Regions from separate parts of the Homo sapiens genome. Here all the other regions are reported to be linked to region 1. The links are microRNA targets in miRTarBase. Many come from high-throughput screens and were not tested one by one. Region 1 holds a microRNA gene; each other region holds the end of a gene's coding sequence.

What was found. The annotated mature microRNA hsa-miR-6817-5p reads UCUGCCAUAGGAAGCUUGGAGUGG and lies in region 1 at 3,005-3,028, shown strand. An mRNA with a match to its seed (bases 2 to 7 or 8) in the 3' UTR can be bound and repressed. Matches are read on the target gene's strand: a 7mer-m8 pairs with bases 2 to 8, a 7mer-A1 pairs with bases 2 to 7 and ends in A, and an 8mer does both.
Region 2: miRTarBase lists ZNF592 as a target of hsa-miR-6817-5p. Seed matches in the 3' UTR shown: 7mer-A1 at 1,653-1,659 and 7mer-m8 at 1,971-1,977.
Region 3: miRTarBase lists AGO3 as a target of hsa-miR-6817-5p. The part of its 3' UTR that is shown has no 7-base or 8-base seed match.
Region 4: miRTarBase lists SHROOM3 as a target of hsa-miR-6817-5p. Seed matches in the 3' UTR shown: 7mer-m8 at 3,237-3,243 and 7mer-m8 at 2,426-2,432.
Region 5: the mRNA of NUP98 is a reported target of hsa-miR-6817-5p. Seed matches in the 3' UTR shown: 7mer-A1 at 508-514 and 7mer-m8 at 1,014-1,020.
Region 6: the mRNA of ZNF106 is a reported target of hsa-miR-6817-5p. Seed matches in the 3' UTR shown: 7mer-m8 at 2,654-2,660 and 7mer-m8 at 261-267.

The regions. Positions count from the first base shown.
Region 1 is chr22:25,452,647-25,456,735 of GRCh38, forward strand. MIR6817 (microRNA 6817) reads left to right here and starts at 3,000; the gene lies at 3,000-3,065. It also overlaps the pseudogene CRYBB2P1. RefSeq lists an enhancer at 3,067-3,170.
Region 2 is chr15:84,802,103-84,806,191 of GRCh38, forward strand. ZNF592 (zinc finger protein 592) reads left to right here. Exons shown (of 11, transcript NM_014630.3): 11 at 1-4,089. The coding sequence ends at 291. Among named protein-coding and RNA genes, the nearest start is that of ALPK3, 13 kb to the right of the region's middle. RefSeq lists enhancers at 1,540-2,041, 2,042-2,541.
Region 3 is chr1:36,055,334-36,059,422 of GRCh38, reverse strand. AGO3 (argonaute RISC catalytic component 3) reads right to left here. Exons shown (of 19, transcript NM_024852.4): 19 at 1-3,786. The coding sequence ends at 3,678. Among named protein-coding and RNA genes, the nearest start is that of TEKT2, 27 kb to the left of the region's middle.
Region 4 is chr4:76,778,712-76,782,800 of GRCh38, reverse strand. SHROOM3 (shroom family member 3) reads right to left here. Exons shown (of 11, transcript NM_020859.4): 11 at 1-3,992. The coding sequence ends at 3,624. The region is part of intron 1 of SHROOM3-AS1 (SHROOM3 antisense RNA 1); the gene reads left to right. Among named protein-coding and RNA genes, the nearest start is that of SHROOM3-AS1, 22 kb to the left of the region's middle. RefSeq lists enhancers at 571-865, 599-968, 100-1,059, 99-1,298.
Region 5 is chr11:3,672,304-3,676,392 of GRCh38, reverse strand. NUP98 (nucleoporin 98 and 96 precursor) reads left to right here. Exons shown (of 33, transcript NM_016320.5): 33 at 17-1,374. The coding sequence ends at 234. Among named protein-coding and RNA genes, the nearest start is that of CHRNA10, 3.0 kb to the right of the region's middle.
Region 6 is chr15:42,413,716-42,417,804 of GRCh38, forward strand. ZNF106 (zinc finger protein 106) reads right to left here. Exons shown (of 22, transcript NM_001366845.3): 22 at 1-3,645. The coding sequence ends at 3,589. Among named protein-coding and RNA genes, the nearest start is that of CAPN3, 56 kb to the left of the region's middle.

The sequences.
Region 1 (4,089 bases):
GGTTTCACCATGTTGGCCAGGCTGGTGTCAAACTCCTGACCTCGTGAGCCACCATGCCTAGTCTAAGATGCCTTCTCTTTGGGTTCGTTTGTTCTGTCCTGTGCAGCAGCTCTAATGTTGTACTTAGTCTCTCATGTTTATATTTGCATTTGTTGCCAGTGATTTCAGTGTTCCATCCAAAAAAAGAGATTGTTAAGCCATTTTATTGTCTATGCGTATTTTCCCCCTAATTTTTCCTTTTCTTTTTGCGACCTGTGTGCACAGTGTCAAGTTTCCCCCAAATATATGCTTATCCCATGTTTTTTCCTTGGAGTGTTTTGCTTTCAGGATTGAATTTAACTGTTCGATTTATTTTTTGTAGATTTTTGTGTATTGGGCAGCATAGGGGTGCTATTTCAATCTTTTGCACATGACTACCCAGTTTTCTCAACTGGTGTGCCTTGGTGTGCTTTTGAAAAATGTGTGCCCTAAATATAATTTTGGGTTGATTACTTGGCTCCCTCATTTTGTCCATTCGGTTGTCTTTCTATATTTATGCCAGTCAGTGATTGCCTGGATGACTGTAGGTTTTGTTTTATCTATCTATCTATCTATCTATCTATCTATCTATCTATCTATCTATCTATCTATAATATATCCTAATCCTATTATTATTATTATTTGAGACAGGTTATTGCTCTGTCACCCAGGCTGGAGTTCAGCAGTGCGATCTTGGCTCATTGCAGCCTTGAACCTCCCGGGCTCAAGTGATCCTCCCTCCTCAACCTCCCAAGTAGCTGGGACTACAGGTGCGCATCCCCATGCCCCACTAATTTTTTTGTACTTTCTGTAGAGGTAGGGTTTTGCCATGCTGCCCAGGCTTCTCTCGAACTCCCAGGCTCAAGTGATCTGCCTGCCTTAGCCTCCCAAAGTGCTGTGATTACAGGCGGGAGCCACTGTGCCCAGGGCAACCCTGTTTTTTTTTTTTTTTTTTTAAATCAACTTTTATTTTGATTAAATTGCAGCTTAGTTACATGTGAACCTTTGATGACACTGAGGCTTGTGGCCACTGACCCCGTCACCCAGGCAGTGAGCAAAGTGCCCGTCAGGTGGTTCTTCCGCCCACACTCCCTTTCTGCCTCCTTTTTTCCATCTGATAGTCCCCAGTGTCTATTGTTTCCATCTTTATGTTCGAGTGTATTCACTGTTTAGCTCCCACTCATAAGTGAGAACATGCAGTATTTGGTTTTCTGTTCTTGCCTTGGTTTGCTAAACATAATAATCCCCAGGTCTATCCATGCTGCTTAGGACATGATTGTGTGTTTTACTTATGGCTGCGTAGTATTTTTTGGTGTGTATGCGCCACATTAAAAAATCAAATCCACTGTTGCTGGTCATCTAGGATGCTTCCACATCTTTGTTCTTGTGAATGGCACGACCATGAATGCACGAGAGCATGTGTCTTTTTGATAGAAGGATTTATTGTCTTTTGGGTAGATACTAAGTAGTGGAATTGCTGGGTCTGATGGTAGTTCTGTTTTAAGTTCTTTGAGAATCTCTACACTGCTTTCCACAGTGTGAACCTGTTTTCACGTTCCCCAAGGTAGGAGCGTTCCCTTTCCTTTCCTGCCTCGCCAGCATGTTGTTTTGCTTTTGGAAAAATGGCCATTCTGACCAGCGTGAGATGGTATCTCATTGTGTTTGTGAGTTGCATTTCACTGATGATTAGTGAGGTAGTGCATTTTTTCATGTCAGTTGGTCACTTGAACGTCTTCTTTTTCTTTATTTTTATTTTTTATTTTTTGAGACAGTGTCTCACTCTGTTGCCCAGACTGGAGTGCAGTGGCGTGATCTTGGCTCACTGCAACCTCCGCCTCCCAGGTTCAAGTGATTCTTCTGCCTCAGCCTCCTGAGTAGCTGGGATTACAGGTGCCTGCCACTATGCCTAGCTAATTTTTGTGTATTTTAGTAGAGACGGGGTTTCACCATGTTGGCCAGGCTGGTCTTGAAGTCCTGACCTCGTGATTTGCCCGCCTCGGCCTCTCAAAGTGCTGGGATTAAAGGCATGAGCCACCATGCCTGACCAATTTTTTGTATTTTTAGTAGAGATAGAGTTTCACTGGTCTCGAACTCCTGATCTCAGGTGATCTGCCCACCTCAGCTTCCCAGAGTGCTGGGATTATAGGCATAAGCCACAGTGCCCAGCCCCTTGACAACTGTTTTGTAAGGAACCATTGCCTGAAGTAGAATTGCTGGATCAAGACTACTTTTCCAAAAGAGGATAATAAACATGATCTCCTCTTTTGTTAATGACTTAGATCATTCCTCTGAAAAGCCATTATTGCACATTGCTGAAATGTTCGCCTCTGCACTGGTTGGTCCCAGAATGCTAATCATTTTGAGATTTGTGCCTTCTTTCTTCTATTTTCTGCTTTCTTCTATTAGCCATGCCCGACCTGAAAGCCATCCCTTCCTCTTTAATGTACTATTTTTCTTCTAATGTGGATCTACAAAAACAGAGTTTGGGCAGAGTCTAACAACAGGAACAAGAGAAGAAACAGATCCAAAGAGAGGGGCTTTGGGCCCAGAGATGTTCTAGAGTCAGTTCTCAGTGGTGAAGGCTGACTGTGCATCTCTCTTCCTAACTTCACTTGCAGCCGTGTCGTATTGATAGCTTGAAATCTGCCACAGTGGGAGCATTTACACCATGGAAATTGGCAAACGCTGCAAATCAAGAGTGTTAATTTTCGTTTTGTTTTTTGAGAGTTGGCTATTAACTTACCAGCATACTATTGGCTTTAGTGCATGGCGTCTATATATTGGTATTTGTTGCTGGGCCGTTATTTAGACTGCCTTCTTATTTCTTAACTGTGTTCCAGGTGGGTAAAGGCAGCATAGCACTGAGTTCTAGATAACTGAGGGGATTTTGCACTTGGATTTGCTGTGCTAAGGTTTGGGTGGGGCTATTACATCTTGCCGGGCTGGGCAAGAGTGAACCCTAGGGGTCAACATCAGTAGCCAGGATTCTGCCATAGGAAGCTTGGAGTGGAACTGACCTGCCCCCTTTCTCTCTGACTCCATGGCAGCTGGGTGAGCTATGAACAGGCCAACTGCAAGGGCGAGCAGTTTGTGTTTGAGAAGGGCGAGTACGCCCACTGGGACTGGTGGACCAGCAGCCAGAGGACAGACTCAGCAGCCTGAGGCCCATCAAAGTGGTGAGCCCCCTGCCATCATCCTACTTTCTCTCTCTGCCACCTTGGAGCAGGAGGTCCTGGGACCAGGAAGGAGCCCGCCCCTCTAGCATTGTGCCCCTTCTGATTGGTGAGGAACCTCCTCACTGGGTGACCTTGCAAAAGTCATTTTACTTCCCTGAGCCTCAGTTTCTTCATCTGTAAAATGGGCATATTGGTATCTACTGTCCTGAGGTTCCAATGTGCTTATTAGCTTGAGGGTTGTCACACTGCAACTCCAGAAGGCTCCAATCACAAGACTATGAAATGCTCCAGAGGGCACTATTCACATTCTATTTTAGGTGGTTGGTGCCCGCCCCCCGCGCCCAAGGGTTGGGCAACTCCCGTCATTGCTCAATAACCAATAGCCATCAGAAATACTACAAGAAATTATGAGTTTGGGGCTGGAGGAGAAGGTGGTTTAGCTCTTCTTCAAGACTCGTGCCAGTGTGAGTTTTCAGTGCTTCTGAGATCCTGATTCTTACTAGTGTGTGAGAGTGTCAACTCTCAGGAAGGGGACAGGGCCCATCACTGCTCAGTTACACTCTCAAACCCTCCAAGCCCAGTCTAGCTCCTCCCAGGACCTACTGGAAGGTTGGAGAACACTGGACTTTGCACCCCACAGACCTGGGTTCCCAAGTTGGCTGTGCTGCTCCCAGCTGTGTGGCCTTGAGCACGTCATTTGACCTCTCTGTGCCGCACTTTCCTCATCTGCTAAATGGCATAAGAGGATTTTATGTCTGAGGGATAAGGGTTTTATGTGTAAAGGATGAGATGAGATAACTAAGGAAAATGTCATAGGGACAGGAGGATGGGAAGAGATGTAGAAATGAAGAAAAATCAAAGTATCTCAGGTGCCTATTAGAGGCACAGTTAGCCT
Region 2 (4,089 bases), not on the chromosome of region 1:
CTCTTCATTGTCCACAAGGTGAGAGACCAGGAGGAGGAGGAGGAAGAGGAGGCGGCGGCAGCGGAGATGGCAGTGGAGGTGGCAGAGCCAGAGGAGGGCTCCGGGGAGGAGGTGCCCATGGAGACTAGAGAGAATGGACTGGAAGAATGTGCCGGTGAGCCTTTGTCAGCTGACCCAGAGGCGAGGAGATTGCTGGGCCCGGCCCCTGAGGACGATGGTGGCCACAATGATCACAGTCAACCACAGGCCTCTCAGGACCAGGACAGCCACACACTGTCCCCTCAGGTGTGACCGGAGACTTTGCAGTGTGCATGGTCAGGGGTGGTGCCGAAGTGTCTTCCACCTGCCCTGCGGACCGTGGAAAATAAAAGGCTCTGCCCCCAGTGTGAGTGTGACCGGTTGTACCCTGGAGTAGTGTCTGCCCTGAGCTGCCAGTGCTGGGTATCCCCCAGCCCCAGGAAATGTGGGGTCGGCCAGGACCCTCACAGCTCTGAATTTGCTTCTGTTATTTATGGCTTTTCGCTGCTTCTTGGTGCCCCATCTCTTGTCTGTGTCCTTCCAACCCCAAGCTGCTTATGTGGCCCAACCCCACTGCTGTCAACTAGGCTTGAACCCCACAGCGGCTGTGCTCTTCTGGGAGGTTCCCGCTTGCTGCCTTCAGCCAGGGCGCTCCTCAGAGCTCTATTTTCCTGCAGACACCAGCTCTCCTTCCTGCCTTTAGATCCTGAGAAGGAGGGAAATGAGGGGTGCTGACACAGTCCCTCTGGGAGAGCTCTGCCTAGTCTGGTTTGGCGAGGGCCCTTGATCACCTTGCCCCTCCTCCCTGTCTTCTCTGATTCTTTTCCCTCAAAATAGTCCTGAGAACTAATTGTCACACTGGCTCATCATGTCTCTGTGGGTGGGGTGGGAGAAACCTCTGCTGCACACCTCTGTTTGGAACCTGGGCAGAGCAGGAGGTAAGGCAAAGGCAGGCAGGCACCAAGAACCAGACCCCTTGAGAAGGCGCTGTGGGTGGGTCTTTGTTCTGCTGTTCTGCCTTTCCTGACAGGTGGGGTTGGGGCACACAGACATTGGAATATTTGTACTGCTCTCGTGCCATTTGAGAGGCTGCTGCCCCAGGCAGGCCAGCCCCTACTCCTCTTGGCTACACTCATGTTGCTCAGACTATATTTCAAATAAAAAATCTTCTCACCATGCAGGTAGGCTCTTGTATTCCTCTCCAAGTGAGCCTGGCCCCACCCTATTCCACCCAAGGGTCTTTCCCAGACTTCCCCTGTTTGTCCCATCTCTGAGGGAGAACAATACTTCCTACTGTCTAAGGAAGGCCTTCTCTAGATTCTGGAGCTTGTGGTTAGGAAACCGGGAGCCCTGTACTACTTAGTTCTCTAGAGACCTTCTGAAGGGGTGAGGGGAGCGGCTCCACAATGGTCAAGTCACCTCCAAGATCTCCAGGCTAGTGACATTGGCTTTAGGGCGTATCGAAATTTTCTAGGCACCTTCATCTTTCCTTCAGTTGATTTTCAACATAAGAGAACCCCTTACTGGTAAAAAGGGAAAAGGGGGTGGAGAAGAGGAATTTTATAATTTTCTTATAGCATTCAAGAGGTTTCTTATTTCTTACAGCATCGCTACTGCCACAGAGAACTCAAATGTGGCAGAACTGGGATTAGACTTGGGAGACTGGCTGTCTTTTCACTGATGGTGGAGTCAGGGCCCACCCAAGCACGAGGAGCAGGCTGTGTGGAGGTGTCGTCTGACCTCTAACCCAGGTGGCATGGGGTTGCGCCCAGCAGGATGTAGTGGAGTAAAGGGAAGAGGGTGCTGGCCGGGTGCTTAGAGGTCATCTTTCAAGGAGGCATTAAATATCAATTATAAATTATTAAGTCAGATAAATATGCCTGACCTTTTCACAGTTGAAAAAATACATTTTTTCCCCTCTATCAAATGCCAAGTTTTTAGTGGAAATGCTAATGGCAGTGGGAAAGGTTGCCTCACTTTCAGAGAGACTCTCGCTGTCTGCACCCTTTTAATAATTGCTCTTCCTGGCAAGGCTGCCACTTCCCTGCCTCCCCAGCTGGCAGTGGGGCAACCCAGGCCTGTTTCCAGCTACCTGCAAAGCCAGACCTAGACCTGCCGTAGCTGTTGTCCCATGCCTAATTCTAGTTACAGGAAGCCATCCCTGTACCCTGGGTCCATTCACAGGAATGGGTTCCAGAGGAGGCTGATAGAAGGGTTTGAAATGACTGGCTGGATCCCTTCCTGCTCAGACACAGTGGTAGCTGGAGAGCAGGCAGAGATGGTAGAATTGCAGGTTTGACCACCTGTCGTGACCCCAGATATACATCTCCTTCCTGGGAAGAACGTGAGTTGGAAAAATGCTGAGCCAGTCCCTGGAAAACCTGGGTCCTGGCCTGGATTCTGTCCTTAGCCAGCTCTTAACAAATCCCTTAACCTCACTGTCTCCTCTCCTTCACAATAGAGTTAGTAATTCCCATCCAACTGGCTTCACAGGCTTTTGTGAGCTTATGAATGTGAAAGTATTTTCTAGTTTATAAAACACTATATGAATGTGGGGAAATCTTTACTTGACCTTAGGGCATGGAGGGTGGAGCACATTTTGTCTGCTGTTTGGACTTGGATGCTGATTAGCAGTTATGAAGTGGCCCAGACACCTAGCCATTCTTTAGTAAGAGTGAAGATAGCATTTTAAGCCCTCCTTGTGTGCCTAGCATCTTACTGAACACTTTCTGGTGATTCTCTCCTTTAATCCTCACAAAGATCTCACAGTTGTCCTCCATTTTACGGAGAAGAAACCGAGGCTCCGAGAGGTTAAACGATGTGCAGAGGCTACCTGTAGTGATGGTGCTGAGTCAAGCCTGTCAACCACTGTGCTCGTTAGTGACCAAGGCTGCTTTGACAGGCTGCCAGCTTGTCAGTGGTTTGCAGCCCCCCAGACATTTGCTTTCCTACTTCCCATGCAGTTGGGGTGCCCTGCCAAGTGCCAGGTTCTCTTTGGAGTCCATCTGTGCCTTGTCACCCCAAGGAGGGCCTCGAGCATCACACCGTTGACATTTCGAAACGTGGTATCTCTACAACCTTTCATTCTCATTGGGATTTACCTTGCCATTTGAACACCATCATTTTTTGAGGACTGTCTAGAAAAGGTTGCCTAACCCTCACAGGGAACACACAGTTCCCTCAGAGTCCAGCATCTTCTGGTCTTTTCTTTTTCAAGATTTTTTTAAATGGTTGTGCTATCATTTGTCATCATCAGAAAATGCTTGCTGTAACAAGCGTTTATCTGCACATTATGCTGCAGTGAATGCTCTACTGATCAAGTTAAACAGATAAGATCCCTTCCCTTGTAGAAACTACAACTTAATACAGTCTAAGACTTGACAAATTACTTAGTATTTATTTTCCAACTGCTTTATCTCTGTAAAATGATATGCTGAATTATTATAAGCTAATTGTTGTAGAAAGAACTTTCCCCTTAACTTATGTAAACAGTCTGGTTTTAAAAAATTTGATAATTGTGGCCCAGTAAGCTCAACACTTTGCCTTCCCCAAGACTGGGGAACCTCTGTCCTGTTCACCACTGTATATTCAGCACCAGGCAGTTTCTTTTTTTGTTTGTTTGTTTTTTTGTTTTGAAAAATTAATACATATACATGGTAAGACATTCCACAATACAAAAGGGTATACAATAAATGGTAAGCTTCCCCATGGAGGTCAGCCTCTAGTCCCCTCTCCAGAGTTAATCACTGTTATCTATATGTTGTGTATCCTTTCATAGCAATTCTATGCATTTACAAGTTTATAAATATGTATATTTATATATCTATTTTTAATACAAATAGTAGAATTCTATACACAGTGTTCTGAAGCTTGCTTTCTTATATAGTATTTTGGAGATTATTCCAAATTCATACATTGGGTCAGAGTAATTCTTTAAAAGTTCCTTGCATATAACAGTGATTCAAAAAGTATATGGATGAATGAGTGAATGCTGCATGAATGAATGAATCTGATTCAATTGGTAGCTACAGCTGTTCTCTCAGGGTCTGATCTGACCAAGACAGCACCTTC
Region 3 (4,089 bases), not on the chromosome of region 1:
ACTTAAAAAAAAAAACTTTTTTAAAATAAAAAAGATTAGAAATTCTACACCAGAAATGCAACAATAAATAGGACAAATTTCAAGAAGCATTTGTCACTTAGCCTTTTATCTTAAAATTCTAAGCACAAGTTTTCTTGTAATTAAGAACCAATGGTAATTAATATACCAATTTGTTAGCAAAATAGAAATATAGTATACATACTCTTTCAAGTTAATCAACTTTAAACTAGCAATGCTGACTAGTGTAAGAGCACTCTAAAAAAGAAATCACTCAAAAGGTAAAGCTTTATAATTTAGAAAAAATATTTTTCCTCTTAAAAAAGTCCTTCCAAATAGATTTAAATTAAGGGCTCCACTCTAGCATATATGAGTGACTGAAAATTAGGTGAGAGAGTACATAGAGAAAGGGTATCTACAGTCATTCCCTAAAGTTTCCCACATGAATCTGTGCAGCTCCCATGATAAAGGAAGATGTTTTACTCACACTGATCAAGCATAGACGAATTAAATTTTTATCATCTTGGGTATACTATTTTCTTCTCTTGCCCATGATCCTGACTATATTCAGTAAAATTTCAGTGTAAAAAAATCCATCTTTATAGGAAATTTTTCTGGAGGAGATGGGAGAAGGCTGGGAGAAAAAATGTATATACGATACAAATATTACCTTTTGTAAAGTTCTTTGCAACAGTGTTGTAAATTGCATTTCAGACACTTCAAAATAATAAACATACAAAATACAGTACTTTCTTAGTTTTCTGGCAGAGGGACAAAAGATTTCATGCCTGTCAGAGGACATGGGCTCAGATTTTAGGCTCAAAATACAGTGAATTGGCAATAATAGTGGATTACAGGTAAGAGAGAAACTAAAGATCTAAATCCATTAGGTTTCACGTGCAGATGGAATTCTGAAAGGCTAACAACAATGCCCACTGGAAACAATCTGTAGTATCTATACTCTGAACCAGTGCAAAAAAAAAAAAAATCAAAATGCAATTTTCATGAGTTACAAAGTGCAAAGCTCCCCTGAATCCAATGTTACTGATAAACTCAGTTTTGATAGCTTTATAGTACTTTTTAATACCTTAAAGTGTAATCAATAAAAGTTTTGTAAAACAATTTCCCACGTTTCAGTGATTTAACTGATTTAAAATGATCAAAGTCCTAACTTCCTTTGTTACTATCACCTTAATTTTAAAAGGAAAGTTATACTGGTGATACATTAGCAAAAGTTTTAAAATATCATCTTGCATTTTCCTGATTCATTTTAGTAAATGAAAATGGGCATCTAGCCAATATGATTCTTCAATAAACACAATCTATTTGCAAATAATTTAAATATGTTAAGCTATTCACAATTATATAAAAGTTCAACTTTATTTCTAATATTCAAGTTGGACTCATTTAGGCAATTTCACTTCATTTTCATTATGATTTTTTTTTCTTTTGAGACGGAGTTTTGGTTTTGTTGCCCAGGCTGGAGTGCAATGGTGCAGTCTTGGCTCACTGTAACTTCCGCCTCCTAGGTTCAAGCAATCCTGCCTCAGCCTCCCGAGTAGCTGGGATTAGAGGTGCCCACTACCACGCCCAGCTAATTTTTGTATTTTTAGTAGAGACGGGGTTTCACCACGTTGGCCAGGCTGGTCTCAAACTCCTGAGCTCCGGTGATATACCTGTCTCAGCCTCCCAAAGTGCTAGGATTACAGGCATGAGCCACCGCGTCCAGCCTTTTATCATGATGAATTTTAAAAGATATGCTTTAAAACTGAAAATTACAAAACTTTCCTTCTGAAATTAAGGCTGTATTCTTTGCCCTTTTAAACTATGGAGGTGCCTGTTCCTCCTACTATCCATGGTAAAGATGCAGACACAACTTTCCTTTAAAACTGCTTATTGCACTAAAAGATAGCAAAAACAAGTTGTCAGTTCTTAAAATAAACATGATTATATTTCTATAAAAGATGCTGCCAATACAATTCTATAATTATTAAAGCACTATTCTAATAAATATAAAAGAAAAGGAAGCTATACTTCCAAACACATACATATGTGTTTATATACACACACATACATATATATATATAAAAAATATATGAAAATCACATTAAGGTATGAGAGGCAGCAAGTAAACTATCAAAAAACAAAACAAAAAAATCCCTCAACAAACTCTTCTCTCTACTCAATTTCAGAGGTCTCAACCCTACAGAGCTCTAATCTTTTAAAATATTTACCCTTTATAAAACCTTTAAAGAATTTCCATGTATAACCCATAGAAACAGAAGGCTTCAGAATACACATCACTTACCAGAGAGAAAGTTACAACTTCTGACAGGTTTTATATTTATAGCAGCTTTAACAAACTCACTAAAGAAAAAGAATAGTAGGCCGGGTGCGGTGGCTCATGCCTGTAATCCCAGCACTTTGGGAGGTCGAGGCGGGTGGATCACAAGGTCAAGAGATCGAGACCATCCTGGCCAACACGGTGAAACCCCGTCTCTACTAAAAATACAAAAATTAGCTGGGTGTGGTGGCACATGCCTGTAAACCCAGCTACTCGGGAGGCTGAGGCAGGAGAATTGCTTGAACCCGAGAGGCGGAAGTTGCAGTGAGCCGAGATCTCGCCACTGCACTCCAGCCTGGTGACAGAGCGAGGCTCTGTCTCATTAAAAAAAAAAAAGAAAGAAAAGAAAAAGAAAAAAGAAAAAGAATAGTTCAGGTTGCTACTGCTTATATACAAATTGCGCAAATGGTAAATGTATGTTCTGAGTGGGAGGGGAGAGACGCACTCTCACAGAAAGTTATTTTATGTATATATATGTGTGTGTCTGTGTCTGTGTATGTATGTATACATATATATATAAAATTTTGTTTCTTAAGACAGCAATATCAAGAGTTGAGAACTCAGAATTGTGTATGAGATAGGAGTCAGGAGTAGGGTATGCAAAATAAAAGTAGAATTCTAGTTTGCCATATTTTATATTCAAACGAACCAGATACATCAACATTTGAATGTCACTGGTAGGACTGGGAAAAAAATGTAGGTGATGAAGGCAAGGGAAATAGAGAAATAAAGGCGGTAGTGGGGGTAGAATAAAAGGGAAAGAAAATTCCCCAATGGAATGAACTCTAAAATATATAACAGACACATATATATCTATTATCAATCCAGATCTAGATATATATGCATATGAAGTATGGATGTATATATTTTAAAAATACACAGACACCTTTTACAAGAATATATGAATGCACATTAATTTTTTGCACACATAATTCTGAAAAATCACTTTGATTATTCATGAAGGTGTGTATTTTTTAAACCATCATTTACTTTTTCTTTACTTTTTTTTGCAAAGATAGTTGTGCTGCCAAGCAACTTGAGGTAAAGGCATTAAAAGGGTTAGACTACAAGAAATGAAAACAAAACAATTGCGATACTTCCTATAGGAGACCGCACAAAAAGCAGTTGGCTGGTTTCATATTGCATAATGATGCTGTGTTCCTTGATGAAGTAAACAATCTTCCTTGTATTAACATAAGGATCAGACCTTGGCCCCCACACAGTGTTGGTTTCTGTATGGCTGGAGGTGTCCTTACTCAATTGACTTCACTGGAAACATACGTTGTATGTCAATTCATCTTTCAGTACTTCCTCTCAGAGAATATACTTGGACTATTTAAGCGAAGTACATTGTGCGTAAGGTATCTTGGTGAATCTGTACAGCCTTGGCAAGAGCTTGTGGATCTCGCCCATTGCTTTGTCCTGAAACGTGACTTCCTTCAGCACTGTAAGAGAAGTGGCAATGAACACAAAAACAAACTTTCTATTCTGATGTAATAATTCCGAAAAATACTATTTGTTGTAGAAAATTTCAAAATTATTAACAAATAAGAGACTGGTGTAACAATCTATGTGTCCATCACTCAGCTTCAATCACTATTAACTCAAGGCCAATTTTGTTTTACTTCTCTCACCTCCCCAGAATTAATTAGAAGCAAACCTAGATATCGTATCATTTTGTCTATCTGTCTGAATGTATCACTTTATTACCAATAATCTCTCCTTTGAATTAATGTAGTAAAACAACT
Region 4 (4,089 bases), not on the chromosome of region 1:
TTCCTGTGTAGAAAAGCCCCTTCACATTCACTTGACCACTTTTTATACCTTGTAGGAAATGAAGTTATTTCTGGCTGTAGTTATTCCTTTTTCTAATAGTAAGGTGAATAAAATTCATGTTGTTCTAAAAGGAAAATAATAACTCCAACCTAACAATGAAGCCAGCACTACCATGGACAATTAAACTGAAGAGAAGTAAATTTGGAACCACATAAGAATAAAAAGCCAACATTTCCTTGGGTATCCAGAGACCCAGTATCTTAATAAGAGATGCCTGAATAACATACAAGTTTAAAGGTAGAGCTTAAAGCATATATTTACCATTTAAACTCATGAATTATTTTAGATGAGATATTAACAGTGGAGGAATAGGAAAACTGGGATGTCCCAGGTTGTTTCTCCTTTATAGCTCCCTCAAAGGACCTCAGTTAAGCCCACACTCCTCACCTTAAAAGACAGCCACTGATTCTTAGGGGTGGACCCAAACTTGTTAATCTTCTAGTCTGGAAACCAGCTGTGCAAAACAAACCCTAAAATGTTCCCATAGAGCAAAGGAAAAGATGTTTGGTTTCGACAGCATCTGGTCTCATAGAGAAACTCAGGCACTTTCACTGTGGATCCTCCCTTCATTCTTTGGGGTTAAGTGGCCACCGCAAGAAACAAAACAGCATGAGAAATGGCTGAGTCAACCAACATGTAGTGACATGCCCAGGAACTTCTCAAGTGGCCCAGGAAGTGGAGGCCTCCTGATTTTCTCGCAGGACATTGTCCTTTCCTGGAACCTTGCGGGTGGCTGGAGTATCTGCATTTGGAGTATTGCAAGATTATCTCACCTGAGTTCTGACCAGAAGTGTATCTCCAAAATTATCACATCCACAAAGACAATTATTGACTGTGAGCAAACATTCTCAGTGACATCACGCGTATTCTGAAACCCTGACCAACAACATGCTCCTTACTGTTCTCATGGTCTTGGCAAAGGATACTGTTGGGAGAAAGAAGAATGGTTTCTACTGTAAATGAGTTTTTAAAAATAGTGGGAGAAGAATGCAAAATAGGAAAGGGATAAATACATAGATTTCTAGCTAAACGCATTTAAAAGGAAACTTTGAAAATTTGGTTAGTGATTTCTTTAAAGTACAGAGGTCAAGTCCTATTACAATAAATATCACATCCACCTAAAAATTAGATTTCAAAGTCTCACTTGGTGCCTTACCCATTTCACATAACAGAACAAAGTTTCCACATAATGAAAGAATGGACACAATCCTAGGAGTGTCACAAGCTTTCAGATGTTTGTGGCATGCCAAGCAGCATTGCCTGTTACTGTGCTGTGGGAGTCAATTACTTTTATGTCTATAAATTAGAAAAGTGGCTGGGTGAAGTGGCTCATGCCTGTAATCCCAGCACTTCTGGGACCAAAGCGGAAGGATCCCTTGAGCCCAGGAGTTTGAAACCAGCCTGGGCAACATAGCGAGACCCCCGTCTCTATAAAAAATCAAAAAATTAGCCAAGCATAGTGGTGCACACCTGTGGTCCCAGCTACTTGGGAGGCTGAGATGGGAGGATGGCTTGAGCCTCAGAGGTTCAGACTGCAATGAGCTGTTATCGCACCACTCTGCACTCCAGCCTGGGCAACATAGTAAGACCCTTTCTCAAGAAAATAAATAAAAATTTTTGAGAAAGACTGAATATGTAAAATGTTCCCCAGTCAAATCCCGAAAAATGGTCATCTCGAAGAGTGTTGGGAACTGGGAGCCCCCTGGATTCCTCTGAGGAATTTCACTAAGAATAACTGTAGACGTTTGCTGGCTGTCTTCCACCTGGCTTGGCTTGTGAGGGCTCATTCAGTATCAGCAAGACACACAGGTAGTTACTGATGGAGTTAATTTCAGGCTCCCATGTTGGCCTAAGACTGATGACCATGCAGTGTGGCTGTTGAATGCTGTCACTGGTTCTACTGCTTTCCTGGGAGACAGGACCTCTGAATGAAAACATCCCTGGGAAACCAAGGTGCTGTCTTATTTGTATCAATGGAGTCATGCAGTATATAAGCTCCAAAGAACAAAGCCATAGCTTTGGTTGACTATGCAAAGGAAACTTCTGGGTGGCCAGTTGTTTATAAGTTAATCAAAAGACATCTCTACTGGAGACCCAAACTACAATTTTGATATTCTTACATAGGAGATAAAACTTCATTAAGTAATGAAAATGTACTAAGGGGAGAAGGAGCATTTGGTTCCCTTGTCATTTTTTTTTTTTTTTTACTTCAAAATTTTACTCCCCCAATTTTCTAAGACTGGCTACTATGAAACTCGTAAGCCCAAATCAACAAAGGTGGCCACCAGCCACAGATCAAACGTGAAAAAACAAATCTACCTCTAGCACAGCCTGGGATGTACTACCTGCTCAAAGTATAAGGCTACTGCCATCTCCAGCAGCTGTAAACATAGCCTGGCTGCCAGCCCATAACCTCCTCAGCCTTCCAGTTTGTTTTTATAAGCTTACAACTGGGGCTACAGAGTAACCTCTGAAATGTTATTATTGAAACATGATAAAGCAAAATCAGTCTTCAGAGGTTAAGGAGGCAGTTTTTAATCAAAGTGTGGTCAACAGGTTTGACATTTTAGAAAACATTTTTTTTTTTTAAAGCATCATTAAAACAGCCTCAATAAACAGGCCGTATTTAGCCCAAATCTTGTTCAGGAGAACAGCATGGGCTCCGTTTGAATTTTGTTGGATTCTGGACGTCCTCCTCCTATTATATAGGTCTGAGAGTTGTCTTTGTTAATAAAATTTAGCTTTGTTTCCCCACCAGTGATAATGACATGAAGCACTAGGAAATGATGCAATAACCGCAGTGCATGAGGCCTTCCTCCTGGGGAAGGTGTGAGACAGGAGGGGAGCAGGACTCCCCCATACTCAGTCCAGTGGAAGCGCAGAATGCCTGCTCGTGTTGGTAAAAATAAGACAGGAATGTAAGAAAAAAAGTCTTCACGCTCAACGTGACTATCTTTGGAATTCATTTCATTAAGGTTTTCACAAAATACAAAGCTCAAACGTAATCATCTATGTCCACCACAAAACAGAATCAAATAAGTGGTTAGCACAACAAACATAGTGATCTTTTCCATTTTAAAAAATATAAATAACAATGTTCAAGGTTTTACAGTTTTCTTAGTGTGTGTCTTTTTAAGGCTTTATGTTGCAGACCCTTCATTAATGGTACTTGTACCCTGCCATCAGGATACACTGCCCACCAGCAAGGAAGGCCACTGTGGATACATTCCTGAGGGGGACACACACTGATCCATGTTGCCTCAGCCTGTTAAAAACTAAATGATCAAACACCCTCCAATCAGTTCTCAGTTTCATTAACTTTCTTTCTACTACAAAGTAATAATAGAAAGGGGTACGTGTCCAGCAGCATTCGAGCTCTCAGAAGATCAATCAGGAAGGGCAAGAAGGAAAAAGGCTTCCTCCTGGAGAGAATTTTTTTCCTTTCATCAGGAACAAACACCAATAACCCAGATAGTTCAAACAGTGGTTTGTACTGAAACATTTTTCAGATTAAATAGTGTTGAGAGAAACAGTGATCTTTTGGTTGGGTATTTTAGAAGAGGTTAAAGTGGAGAGGTTAATGTTGGGAAAATACCACTGAAAGTACAGCCCCCAGCAGGAATGGGCTCACTCGTGAGGTTTGGGGGCAGAGCCAGGGCCCCAGCCTTGGGAATGAAATCTGAGGGCAGGCTCTCCAGCAGACACTTGACCTGCTCCTGGCCCAGCTTGATCTTGTCATCCAGCTTCCGTTGCTCAATGAGGAGCGTGGACTTCATTTTCACGAAGTGCTGGTAGTCCTGGAGCTGCTCCTCTGAAAGGTAATTGGCCAAGATGCCCAGCACTACTCGCTCCCTGCGATCCAGGTTCTCCTTCAGCTCCCGGGCATCCTCATGCTGACCAGCCAGGATCTTCCTTTTCTCGTAAAGAGAGCTCTGCCAGGGAAAATTGGACAGATCAATGAAGGCCAGGGAAAGGGAGAAAAGAGCCAGACTCCCTGCAAGGACACCTCTGACAGGACTGGGAAATATC
Region 5 (4,089 bases), not on the chromosome of region 1:
TAGTTTTTCTCTCTAGACATGGCCAAACGTGTAGCCAACCTGCTGCGCGTGGTGCTGAGTCTGCATCATCCTCCTGATAGAACCTCCGACTCAACACCAGACCCTCAGCGAGTCCCTTTGCGCCTCTTGGCTCCCCACATTGGCCGGCTTCCCATGCCTGAGGACTATGCCATGGACGAACTGCGCAGCCTTACCCAGTCCTATCTGCGAGAACTGGCTGTTGGGAGCCTGTGAGCCCCAGGCACTTTGCATCACAGTCACATGCCCATTCACACCACACAGAGGTTCCCTGCCTTGTTTGGATTGGCACTGTTTGCCATTCTCTGGGTTGGCTGTGGCATCTACCCTCCCTCCCTGCTGCCAGAAGCAGCATCCTCCACTTGTTCAGGGCTTTTCTTAATACTGAACGTAGCATAAGGGCTTCTGGAACCCAGAAGAGGAGACAGTTTACCATCCTCAAGATCATTCAGTGTTTTTCCTTTAAAAAAATGGTCAATAAAGCTCCTTTGGCAGAATCCCCCAAAGAACCAGGGTATTCTTTTTCCATCCCTAGCCATTCTGGATCTTGTGACCCTCCATGCCAACCAGCTTCCCTACTCCTACCCTGGCCCTTTTATACTAGGACTCCTTAGGAGGAGTGAGACAGGTGATAATGGATCCTTAACAGATGAACTATCCACAGAAGGAAGAGGGATCCGTCTCTTAAGTAATTGGTTAGTTAACACTGAATTTTGGAGGCAAAGGAGGGTTGGCCTGAGTTAGGAAACAAAATGGGATCTTTCTGACACACTTAGGGCAGAAGTGAATGCCTGTCACGGAGGGATTGATCTTCAGGGCTGTTTTTGTTCCTGCCTTTAGAGTTCCATGAACACCATACCTTTGCTACTACTATGTGCAGGAACCCTTGGTCACATGTGACATGTCTGTGGGAAGCTCCCAGAGTTTGGTTTGGTCCCTGGTTTTCAGTCTTGCTGAGACTCTGTCTGGATTTGCCTGCAGAGTTTGGATAAAAAATGGCAGGTTGGGTAACCCTCCCTGTTCATCCCATGTTAGCTCCAAAGCATTTCCCACCCTCCATCTACCCCTTCCAGAAGCAAAAACAAACCATGACTGAGGCAGGCATGGAGTTGGGCGTTAGGGGCAGGCAGAGGGCCTTTGCTACACTGCTGACAGCTATAGGGAGCCCCAGGTAATGGCATGAGATAGCTGGTGTTAGGGCTATCTCAGGCAATATGGCCACACCTGGGTCTTTATGCATGAAGATAATGTAAAGGTTTTTATTAAAAAATATATATATGTATAAATAAATGATCTAGATATTTTCCTCTTTTTCTGAAGCTACTTTCTTAAAAAATAAATAAAATGTTTATAGCATTCCTGGTATTGGCTTTCCCTTTGTATTTTTGAGCCTTCTTACCCTGAGGATCTTTATGGTGGCCTTGTTTGATTTAGCCTGTTTTTGAATTTGCCTTCTAAATGGAGACAGGCCATGGGCTAAAGAGAACAATTGGGTGCTAAACTGAAAGATAGATTAGCCCAAAGGCTAGATTTATAAGGGGAAATTTAGGGGCAAGGGAGTTGATTATTGATTAATACTGATTGCTGTACATATATTTATGCACATAGATTCCCGGGTCTCAAATTGCCCAATAGAATATACCATTCAAAGCCTCCTCGCTCTTCTACTATAGTGGTTTTGTTTTTAAACCCTGAGTGACGCTTCACCTTTCTAAATCAGATTCCCTTTTGTAAAGGGGATAATGATTGCTGATGTTACTTCACACAGGGCTATTTTCAAGAGGAATCAATTGAGTAGCATGAGTACTATTCCAGATCTTATTTTGATCTGTCAAGCTGAAGATGTGAGCAAATTCCAATTAAGATTAGACCAAAGACTTCTGAGACTTTCAGGAATTCAGGGATGAGAAAGCAGAGTGGGTCAGCTCTGTTGTCTGGAACTTCCATTTAACTTAGATGCCTCAGGATAGGGGTTACTCAGCTGGAATCCCCTCCACTACTGACTCACTATGTGAACCTGAGTGAGTCACAAAACATAGTTGGACTTCCAGCAAAGAACACCTGACCTGGTTTCCTTACCAGAGGAATGTTTCAGAAAGTGAGTATGCTATAGAAATGGTTAGCTCTTAGCAGTGTTCGGAATTGTGGGCCAGGAGTGGTGGCTCACACCTGTAATCCCAGCACTTTGGGAGACCAAGGTGGGAGGATCGTTTGAGGCCAGGAGTTCAAGACCACCCCAGGCTACATGACAAGACTCTGTCTCTAAAAAAAAATAAAATTAGTTGGGCATGGTGGTGTGTGTGCATAGTCCCAGCTACTCAAGAGGCCTAAGCAAGAGGATCGCTTGAGCCTAGGAGCTGAAGGCTGCAGCGAGCCATGATTGTGCCACTGCACTCCAGCCTGGGCAACAGAGCAAGAAAAAAAAGGTTCTCAATCAAAGGTTTATCATAGAAGCCATGTTGTGCATAAAAGAGAATATCAACTTCCAGTTCAAGATAAGGGTGATGAACAATCTCTTCTTTTTTTTTTTTTTTTTTGAGACAGAGTCTCGCTCTGTCCCCCAGGCTGGAGTGCAGTGGGGCACGATCTGCAAGCTCCACCTCCCGGGTTCATGCCATTCTCCTTCCTCAGCCTCCCAAGTAGCTAGGACCACAGGCACCCGCCACCATGCCCGACTAATTTTTTTTTGTATTTTCAGTAGAGACGGGGTTTCACCGTGTTAGCCAGGATGGTCTCGATCTCCTGACCTCGTGATAAGCCTGCCTTGGCCTCCCAAAGTGCTGGGATTACAGACGTGAGCCACCGCGCCAGGCCTGAACAATCTCTTCCACATCCCAAAATCCCGTTGAAATAGTAAAAAATGTTTTAATTTCAAAAAAAATTCTCAAAAACATAAAACAGGAACCAGTTACCTCAACATTCGATAGATCTGTGGAATCTACAACATTCAAATAACTTATTTTCTCAACAGAACCCAAAGTTAACAGAGGTCTGGAGAATTAAATATTGGAATAATTAAGCAAAGGCCTGCAGAGTATCTGCTCTTTTTAGATGTTTCATCTTTAGCTCAGTTTTGTTAATTTGTATTTCCAGAAAATTGTTCCAGATTTTTTGTTATTCAAATAACCAGTCCTTAGACGTATTAATCAATTTTACTGGAGTTCTGTATAATCTTAATTTCTGCTTTAAATGTTCATTTCTTAGGCTTTCCTAAGGATTTGTTAAACCTTGTATTGGTTGGGCACGATGGCTCACGCCTGTAATCCCAGCACCTCGGGAGGCTGAGGAGGGAGAATCCCTTGAGCCCAGGAGTTTAAGACCAGCCTAGGCAACATAGGGAGACCTTGTCTCTTAAAAAATGAACAAAAATTAGCTGGGTGGTGTGCACCTTTAGTTCCAGCTATTCAGGAGGCTGAGGTGGCAGGATGGCTGTAGGGTATTTTGGTAGTTGTTCTTTAACAAGTTAAGGACAGTTCCCCTCTACTAGCTTGAATAAGTGAATGTTGGATTTCAATTTGAAATGATGTGAAACGCTTGTGTGTTAGGAAGGTGGTTGGAGATAAGCAGAGTACCTGGGAGAGGGGACGGGTGGAGAAAGTGCAGGGAATCACTGGCATATCCACGATGCCCAAAGTCATGGCTATGGATGTGATTGCCAGGGAAGTATGTGCTGCTGTTGGTCAGGCAACTGGTCAGCTTGAACAAAAATAATCAAAACTCTGTGCATGATAAATACCTGTGACCTGAGGATAGCCTGGCTACCTTACTGGGACCACAGTGTAAATATTGTTGATGACCTGCTGTACCTTAGGCACCGTGCTAGACAGTGCCTTGCACTATCAGGTTATCTCATTTAAATCCTTGCAGTTTTCAAGATGAGTACTGTTAATCCCATTACCAGATTGAGAGAACAGAAACCCAGAGAGTTTAAATATCTTACCCAAGTGAGAGCGCTCATAAGACAGGGCCGAAAGTGACTGAATGCTTGCCCTCTTCTCCCACACTGCCCACAGTGTTTGGGCAAGGTGAAAAAACAGGCTCAGATGGGAATGACTGCAGGGAGTCTGAGGA
Region 6 (4,089 bases), not on the chromosome of region 1:
TCAGGAGCTGAACACTCAACTGTTAACTCTTCTGGGGAAGAAGAAAATTTTTCCCACAAAAGCAGGAGTGCAGTAGTAAGTAATGACTTTCTCTCAGATTCAAGTAACATCAGGTCAAGATAACCTTTGCTGTTAGAGTTTTGTTTGCATGGTGTGGAACTGCTTTATAAACTGAGTAGAGACGTATGCCAAAATTATTTTTAACCTAATTAAAAACTTTCACAGAAAACTTGAAGTGACTGATACTTTATCACAACGAACTGCCATTTAAACACTAGCATAGGTACACAAAAAGATTTATACTATGGTTTTCTTGGCTTTAAGCCATTAGAATTAGACAAAAGCAACCGAGAGTAACATTCTAAAAGTGGCTTCAACTACTTTAAAGACATGAGTCAGTTTTTGTCAGGTCATTTAATGGTTTCTTTCCTTCACAAAGCCACTAAATGCCAGAGTCAACACAGATCCCTGAGCCATAGCTCTTCTCTGAGGGGAAACAGGGTTATAATCAGTCACAACATTGTGGAAGACATTAAAAAAAGAAGGCAAAGTTCTGTATAATTTTCAAGACTCTTGTAAGTAGTAACACACAGCCATAAGCAGCCAAAATGCTTATGGTCCCTTTATTTCTTAATAGAGGGCTAGAACCGTTCATTTGGGGTAACACACTAATCTGGTGTTAAAAGAATTTCATGTGTTCTTGAAACAAAGGCATACTGCCACTGCTTCAAAAAAAGCCTTTGTGAAATGAAGAAAAATATGACAAACACAGGTTCCCACACGTACACATACATACAAAGGAACCTGCACACTTGCACACACACAGGCAGGTATAGGCACACAGTTCCACCAAAGCGAAGTCCAAATCAGAGTTCTTACCGATTCTACCACTCTGTAATACTCTCAGAAGTTCCCACAACTGCCCAACACCTCACCTACCCGTTTCCTGCTGCACAAAGTCTCCTTCACTCTCATCTTTTCGATACATCGTCAGGCAGGGCAGAAGGGCACTACGCCGCAGAGCATTCGAGGCTCTCAGCACACTGCCAGCCAGCGTGAAAATGCGGCTTCACTACAGCCCAGAGAAAAGGGCCAGGTTTAGTCATCGATCCAGATGCATTTTCCCGGGAAATGACCATTCCCAAACCCACAGAACAGTTTGGCTTCTCTGGATATCCTTATAGGAAATAGGGGTGAGAGGTGGGAAAAGCTTCTCAATCTCATACAGAAACAGCACAAATATTTAATACACCTTTTGCAACAAGATCTTCTCTGTTCTCCATTAAGCATCATGTAAATCTCACTAGTGTGGTTAACAAAATGGCTTTCCCCAAGGACAGAAGTCAAGAGCTTGTGGGGCCATATATTATCTAGTACTAGGCCATTCATTATCTCCTAGATTAACTCTTTTTTTTTTTTTTTTGAGGTGGAGTTTCACTCTTGTCGCCCAGGCTGGAGTGCAGTAGTATGATCTTGGCTCACTGCAACTTCTACCTCCAGGGTTCAAGTGATTCTCCTGTCTCAGCCTCCTGAGTAGCTGAGACTACAGGCACATACCACCACACCCAGCTAATTTTTGTATTTTTAATAGAGACGGGGTTTCACTATGTTGGCCAGGCTGGTCTCAAATGCCTGACCTTGAGTGATCCACCCGCCTCGGCCTCCCAAAGAGCTGGGATTACAGGTGTGAGCCACCAGGCCCGGCCTCCTAGATTAATTCTTGACATTTTTTGGATCAAGTAAGAACCACTGGAGCCTTTCCTGGAAAAAAGAACACATACTCAGTCTCACACACAATTTCTGGGGGCTCACAGACCCTCTTGAAGCCTATCCATAAACCCCCTGGTGAAGTCCCCCTGCCCGATAGCCTGAGGGAAGACATGTGAGTGGATATATGTGCACTAACAGGGGCGAAGACAGACCTGGATGGTCTGCAATCCCAGAGAGCATGAGGCACCATGTCCCAAAGCTTGGTATGTGGCCCTGGGCTCCTCCCCCAATTTTATCTCTCTGAAGAAGCTGAGTTTTTTTTTTTTTTTTTGAGACGGAGTCTCACTCTGTCACCAGGCTGGAGTGCAGTGGCACGATCTCAGCTTACTGCAATCTCTGCCTCCCGGGTTCAAGCGATTCTCCTGCCTCAGCCTCCTGAGCAGCTGGGATTACAGGCGCCCACCACGCCCGGCTTTTTGTATTTTTAGTAGAGACGGGGTTTTGCCATGTTGGCCAGGCTGGTCTGCAACTCCTAGCCTCAGGTGATCTGCCTGCCTCAGCCTCCCAAAGTGCTGGGATTACAGGCGTGAGCCACCACGCCCGGCCACGTTCTGAGTTTTGAGGATCCAGAAACAAAAGGCTGGAAAGCGACACTTCTACAGGTTTACTGATGAGTCCGGAGAAAATCCAAAAACAAAGCCCCACTGAGGGTTTGTGAATTTGGCTGTTCTCAGTGGCCAGGCAGAGTCTCTGCTCCACTCTTCTTTCCCAGCTAGCAGGGAAGTGAAGGCAAAGAACTGTCTCAGAAACAAGTCTCTAGGAAGTCTGCTTGAGGTCCTGAAAACTGTATTCAGATGCTTTATTCTAACCCCCTCTCCCCCACCATCTTAGTTGCTGCAGGGGGGTGGAAAACACCCCGTGAGCCCAGAGGAATATTCGATGGCTGCCATCGGTCTAGGCACGGCCATACAGTGGGAGAGATGGAGGCTGGCAACTGAACAAACCAAAAGGGTTCAAACCAACATTAGGCTTGCAGGGTCAGACACTAGAAAGGAAGATAAAGGTACACCTCCAGTTCAACAGCCTGACAGGATCTGTAACAGGTAGTGCCCAGGTTCAACAGCAGATGTAAAGGTAGACGTTAGGTCTACGCACTGCCTCACACTGAGCTTTCTATCCACATTTACAGAGATTTACTAGAAGTGGTGTCTGTAAGGACTTGTCACTATGTGATTTGCTTCCTGAATTCCTAAAAGATAGTCAGCAGAGCAGCCACTGTTTGTCAAAAATCTACTGTGTCCTTTAGCACTTAAAGCCAGCTCTATCTATAAAGCAAGAAAACAGTGACACACACTGCACATAATTGTTAAGAAAGAAAACTATTTGCTTCCAGTTTAAATACCCAGCTATTACAAATGGAGAAATTAAAACTGATCCTCAAAGTCTGGCACTTAAACAAACTTGTACTTAAAAGCCTGACTATAGGTTTAAACCATCATAAGAACATAAATTAAAAATTGCAAACTGAAATCAATAAAATATACATATGATTAGGGTCAAACTGGGTAACCAATTAGGATCTGTATCTTCAATAAACATCTGGAGAACGCAAATAGCATATATCACTATATGCCATGCTGTCCCAGAGAAGTATGGTTCCTTAACATTTGTCTAAATCTATTTAAAACCTCCAGCAAGAACTTAAAAGTGTAATTTATCATCCCATAGAGCTGCCCAGACTTATGCTAGGGGTATGCCTGGCTAGTAACCACTTTCTCCTTCCTTACTTCACCAAGAAAGGGAAGAGAGTGGCCTGTGTGGGGGGCCAATGTGAAAATAGTTCAACTAATGACTTCCCAACGTGGGAGGCAAAAAACTTCATGAATCAATTTTGCTGTCATCTTCAGCATGTCGTTCAATATGTCCTGCAGCATCCTAGGAATGAAGGGAAAAGGGCCCATGAGAGAGAAGTCGATAGTAAGACAGGAGAAAGTCAAAGCCAAGGAAAGCCATGTGGGTCCATTCCACCTAGGATCCAGACAGGAAAGGCAGTTAGGAGCCAGCACTTTGCTAACTTACGTGAAACCATGTACTTAAAGGTGAGCTGTTGTCTCAGCACAAGAGCACTGTAATAAATCTCCAGGTTCAGTTACTGGATTTGAAACATCTGAAAACATTCTCTTTAGGCCCTTTCTCAAAAATGACCTAATTCTTCATTTGCAACTTCATTAAGCTACCCCCCAAATCTCTGAATCATAAAAATAAAAAACCCTAGGCCCTCCCTATATATGGCAATTCTCAATAATAAAAAAGGTTTGCTAGCCCCTGCTCTGAGCAGTCTACTGAATCCCAGGCAAACCTCAAGTCCCACTAATGTAC